Regions from separate parts of the Homo sapiens genome. Here region 2 is linked to region 1. Evidence: fine-mapped expression QTL. A gene starts in region 1. The other region holds a variant in brackets. All regions are shown on one strand. Distances are from middle to middle.

Region 1 (2,910 bases):
AATGCTCTTACTTCATCCTGGTCCCTAAGATTCTATTCCCAATGACCTGGCTTTATGTCTCACTACTGTGCTATTCATATTGTATCTTCCATTCACATTGGAGCGCTACTTTCTGGTCTTCTCTCATATTTCTACCTTTCCTGCCTGTCAAACCTTTACTCTTTTTATTTCACTCTCTACGATACATTTCCTCCCATTTGCAACCGTCAGATACTACCAATGTTCAAAAATAACCCCCTTGACAAAGCTTTCTCCTATTCTTTTCCTTATTAGAAATTTCAAAAGTTTGTTACTCTCCCGCTTGTGATATTATTCTACATATATTATAGTTATTTATTTTATTTTTTTGAGACAGTCTCGCTCTGTCGCCTAGCAGCCTAGGCGTGCAGTGGCGCGATCTCAGCTCACTGCAACCTCTGCCTCCTGGGTTGAGGCGATTCTCCTGCCTCAGCCTCCAGAGTAGCTGGGACTACCGGCGCCACTACTACTCCTGGCTAATTTTTGTATTTTTAGTACATGCCGCGGTTTTGCCGTGCTGGCTAGGCTGGTCTCCAACTCTCCTGATCTCAAGTGCCTCGGCCTCCCAAAGTGCTGGGATTACAGGCGTGAACCACCGTGCCCAGATAATTTTTGTATCTTTAGTAGAGGCGGGGTTTCGCCACGTTGCCCAGGCTGGTCTCGAACTCCTGAGCTCAAGCAGTTCTCCCACCTCGGCCTCCCAAGTTTAATGTAAAATATCAGATGCCATTGTTTCAGAAAGCCTTCAGTAGATTAAGGAGATTGTTCTCCTTATCCTTAAGATGTCTATTTTTTACATGGCAATATTAACGGACTGAAAGCTCCTGGAGAGACGCAATTGCCCTTGTAACTTCCATTTCCGTACAATTTCTGGTAGGAAATAATAATAACAATAACACTTAGTGGTGTTTATTATTTGCTGGGCATCCTTATAAGGGTTTTACATGTTTTAAATTTATCCCTCAGGACAACTCCATGTGATGGGTGCTATTATCACAAAAATTTTATAGATAAAGAACCTAGGCACAGGGAGAGGTTACGTTACCGGTCCATGGTCACGTGGCTGGTGAATGGCAGAGCCGGGGGCTGAACCCAGCAATCTCAGCCAGGGATCCGTGGTCTTAACCACTTTGTTACCTTTATCCCAGGGTCTGTCAATGTTTATTCCAGTTACAGGGGTGGAATTCTGCTAGAAGCTTTTGAGAACCTCATCTAGCGTTGTGTTTTTTTCTACCAAGGCTTTTAGCTGCTAAGAGAGAGGCCACTGCCAGTAACAGCCGGGGCGCCGAGCTGTCAAGGCTGACGGAGGAATGGACGCTCATCGCGCAGCGGAGTGTTGGAGGGGCAAGCCCGCCAAGAGACCCACTTTGCACAACTGTCCTCAGCCAGGAAACGACAGATCAGGAACCCAGGGACAGAAACACACGCGGGGCCTCTTCAGAGGTCGGCGGGGGGGGTGGGAAAGGGGCGGGGAGGAAGAGCAGCGCAGGGCCTGGCCGTTTGGAGGAGGTGCTGGGGCGGCGCGAAGGGAGGCGGGACAGGGTAGACTCACAGATCCAGGAGCTGACTGACCCGCCGTGGGCGAGGCATCGCTGCAGCGTCTGAAGCCTCTTCCGCGGTCCCAGGGCCTCCAGAACCCAGCCAGGGACCGTCCGCCAACTCCCGCCCACCGCGCGACGCGTAGGTTTTTGTGACGTCACACGGATTTTTCCGGTGACCGGGGCGTGGCCACGCTTCGGACTCCACAAGGAAAGAAGAGAGCCCCCTTTGGGGCGGAGCCACTGAGGGCTGCGCGGAAGAGGCTGGGTGTGATAAACTATAAAGAGGCCCTAAACTCGGATGCAACGTGACGGGAGTTGTAGTTCTTTCACCTGGCGGGCGTCTGCTCCGGTTCAGCTGCAGGAGGTTTCTTGGGAGTTCAGCCCAGCGCGCAGCCCCGCCGCGACGCCGCGAGCCGAGAACTCTCCTGGGGCGAAGGGAGCGCTGAGAAGTCGCTACTCTTACTAAAAGGATGCGTTGGATGCTGGGCCATACCCTTGGCGATGCACACTGGAGACCCGCTCGGATACGGACTCCATTAACATCAAACGGAGCGTGTTAGAGGATCCGAGTTTACTGAGCACTTTCTAGGAAGCGTGCACTGAGCTACGTGCTTTCTAGGCCTTAGTTCAATACTTAACCATATTCATTATAATCCGGTGAAATCGTAATTATTTAGCCTTATTTTACAGATGAGGACACTGCGTACCAACAAGTAACCTCACTAAGAATTTCGTCATGGAGGAGAAGGGAACCTGTATTCAAATTAGGAAGGATCCTGAAGAAAGGGCACCTTTAGGTGGAATTTTATCTTTGGTTCTGCTGCAGAGTACTTGCTGCTTTTTAGTGCTCCCTCCACCCCCCTCATTCTTCCTTGTAGATTAGTCTGTTGTTTGTATGCTGAGTTCCTTTTTTAAGCTCCTTGAAAGTTGGAACCCACTGCTGTTGCCTGTTCAGGATGCTACACATTGAATCAACATGGATTTATTAAGCGCTGAACGAGGGCTAGGGATCGTGCTGGGTGCTGAGGATTGAGTGGCGAACACTTGGGTCAGACAAGTAAAAGGGCAATTAGAATAACTGTTAAATGCTTAGATGGGGTTAGTTCTATGGAAGCACCCATGGGGGTGGGATACAGATCAGAGAGAAAAGGGTGGTCTGCAAATAGTTTGGGATGGCTACACTGGAGAGTGATCAAGAGTGAGTGTAGGGCAGGGGTTGGCCGACTTTTTCCATAAAGTGCTCTGAAAGTTGCAGATTCCAGGAGAAGTAACTATTGTCAGACCCAGACAAATTGGAGCCTAGAGACCAGAAAGGAAGGAAACTCATGCTTGTATGTCTGAGATAAGAACT
Region 2 (2,910 bases), 60 kb before region 1:
TGAGCCACCGCGCCTGGCTGAAAACCTTTATTTTATAAAGGAGTCTCAGTTCTTTTTTTTTCTTTTTTTTTTTTTGATACAGAGTCTCACTCTATTGCCCAGGCTGGAGTGCAGTGGCACGGTCTTGGCTCACTGCAACCTCCACCTCGTGGGTTCAAGTGATTCTCCTGCCTCAGCCTCCCGAGTAGCTGGGATTACAGGCATGCACCACCATGCCCAGCTAATTTTTGTATTTTTATTAGAGACAGGGTTTGACCATGTTGGCCAGGCTGGTCTTGAACTCCTGACCTCAGGTGATCCACCCGCCTCGGCCTCCCAAAGTACTGGGATTATAGGCGTGAGCCACTGCGCCCAGCCAAGGGGTCTCAGTTCTAATTTATTGCCATGCTCAATCAAGCCCAAGTCTCGTTTCCCTGTCCACAGTAAAAAAACAAAATCTTTTGGTTAATGAAATCAGCAAATATTCCTAAAAGTCCCAGCATTTCTAGGTGTTTTGAATTGTTTGTTTTCAGGATATCCAGTCATGTATTTGGAAATTGTGGTATAGCTTATATTGGGATAACCTTTATACTTCTCTACTTTAAAAAACAACTTTCATCAAAAAGGAAGAAAAATATATTGTTAGCAGATCTTCTAAATTATTTAATCAACATGGAATTATAACAGCCTAGCATATACCAATTCATTTTGTGCTTTTTTTTTTTTTAAGTTGCAGGAATGGCTATTACACTAAATTGTGAATTGAACAGACTGAATCCTTTTCCTATTTTAATCCAAAACATTTTGAATTTGGAACAAGATAAGTGGGACCTTGTTGTTCTTGGCGATATGTTTTATGATGAAGACCTTGCAGATAGTCTTCATCAGTGGCTGAAGAAGTGCTTCTGGACCTATAGAACTCGAGTACTGATTGGTGACCCTGGGCGGCCCCAGTTCAGTGGACACAGCATTCAGCATCACCTGCACAAAGTGGTAGAATATTCACTTTTGGAGTCTACTAGGCAGGAAAACAGTGGACTGACAACAAGCACAGTGTGGGGTTTTCAGCCTTGAGTTGTCAAAGTGCTTCCAAGTATGAATATAGTAATGTTTGGATCTGACTCTAAAAGTTTTCTCTATAGGAGATACTCTCCAGTTTAATGAATGTAATTCTTGTTAAATGGAAAATCTTGTTTTTAAAATATGAAGGTTTAGAGTTTTGTTTACTTTTGTCATGTAACTGGTTCTGTATTTCTATGCATGCCAATTATACACATCTCTATCTGCATTTTTTTTTCTATTTTAACCGCTGAAGGAATATGATTATACAATGCCATACTCAATGGTGGCAGCATTTAATTTAAGTAATGGAGAAGAATTAAACATTGTAGCTGGATCTGTTTCTGTAGTCGAGGACAACTGTGATGTAACTTTGAATTAAACAAACAAAACAAAACAGAAGAAGACTATATATATATTTTTTCTTTTTTTAGAGACAGTCTCACTTTGCTCCCAGGCTGGAATGCAGTGGCTATTCAGAGGCTTAATCATTGGGCACTGCAGCCTTGAACTCTGGGCTTTTTTTTTTTTTTGAGATGGAGTCTCAGCTCTGT[C/A]GTCCAGGCTGGAGTGCAGTGACTCATGTCTCGGCTCACTGTAGCCTCCACCTCCCCCAATCAAGCGATTGTCCTGTCTCAGCCTCCAGAGTAGCTGGGATTTTAGGTGTGCACCACCATGCCTGGCTAATTTTTGTATTTTTAGTAGAGACGGGGTTTTGCCATGTTGGCCAGGCCGGTCTCAAACTCCTGACCTCAGGTGATCCACCCGCCTTGGCCTCCCAAAGTGCTAGGATTACAGGTGTGAGCCACCACGCCAGCCTGACGATGTTTTTTACTTCTATCACTTCCTTTTGATTTTTTCTTATAGCTTCTATCTCTGCTTACGTCACCCATCATTCTTGCGTGTTGTATGCTTTTCGCATTAGAGCCCTTTGCATGTTAATCAGTTATTTTAAATTTATGATCTGGTAATTCTAAAATGTCTGCCATAACTGAGTCTGGTTCTGATGCTTGTTTTCTTTTCAGACTGTTTTTTTGTCTTTTAGCATGCCTTGTAATTTTTTGTTGATAGCTAGACATGATGTATTGCATAAATAAACAAGTAAACTAAGGTAGCATGAGGTTTTAAAATCTGGGTAGGGCTACTGTTTGCTGTAGAGTAGATATTACAGGCTAAATTTTCCTCTAGTGTCCTGGCTATTGTCTCCTCTGTTATCTTTGAGTTTCCCTAGAGATTCCTTCTTATATAGAGTCTGAAGCTTGCAGTTTTTTTCACCTGTAATTCCCTGTTATTATACAGTAGCCTAACTGATGTGATAAGGTATGGGAGAAGGTATGTTCTATAGTCCTGTGATTAAGTCTCAGTCAGTTAAGTCAGCCTGTGCCCCTGCTGTGACCTTCACAAGTGCTTTCAGCTTTTCTTTTGTCACTTTGGTGAGACAGGAAGGCTAGAGGCAGCTGGAGTTGGGTGCTTCCTTTCCCCCAGGTCAACGAGGCTCTGGTAAAATAGTTTCCCTTGAGAACTGGCTTTTGTTAAGGAGAACTGAACACTTGGGCATATTTCAAAATGGTTACTTTCCCTATCCTCATACCAGAAGAGGGGATTTTTCTCTGATCCTCACCCTGAGAACCTGGTAGGTATCCTGGAGGTAAAACTATGAAAGTGTGGTGTCTCCCCTAGGAGTGGGCCCCCTGGAGTTTGTTTGTTTTAATTTAACAAAGTTTAATTGAGCAAAGAACAATCTGTGAATTGGGCAGCTCCCAAAAGCAGAATAGGTTCAGAGTGACTGCAGGGTTGCCACACCTGGTTAGATAACGTTTATGGACAGATTCCTAGAGCTTTTGATTCTTTTTTTTTTTTTTTTGAGGCAGAGTT

The links. PIP is the estimated chance that this variant, and not a neighbour inherited with it, causes the effect. A credible set is the group of variants that fine-mapping cannot tell apart.
Region 2: its variant is the best candidate, but not a certain one, in a credible set for the expression of AMN1 in whole blood (TOPMed, PIP 0.81).

The regions. Positions count from the first base shown.
Region 1 is chr12:31,727,401-31,730,310 of GRCh38, forward strand. AMN1 (antagonist of mitotic exit network 1 homolog) reads right to left here and starts at 1,621. Exons shown (of 7, transcript NM_001113402.2): 1 at 1,571-1,621. The coding sequence starts at 1,608. AMN1-AS1 (AMN1 antisense RNA 1) reads left to right here and starts at 1,865. Exons shown (of 1, transcript NR_198987.1): 1 at 1,865-2,910. LOC105369722 (a long non-coding RNA gene) reads left to right here. Exons shown (of 3, transcript XR_931497.3): 3 at 1,257-1,490. RefSeq lists a silencer at 1,410-1,489 and enhancers at 1,540-1,889, 1,902-2,534, 1,930-2,129.
Region 2 is chr12:31,666,938-31,669,847 of GRCh38, forward strand. It overlaps ETFBKMT (electron transfer flavoprotein subunit beta lysine methyltransferase), which reads left to right. Exons shown (of 4, transcript NM_001135863.2): 4 at 710-2,910. The coding sequence ends at 1,053. Among named protein-coding and RNA genes, the nearest start is that of ETFBKMT, 8.7 kb to the left of the region's middle. The variant C/A (reference allele first, on the strand shown) is at 1,593.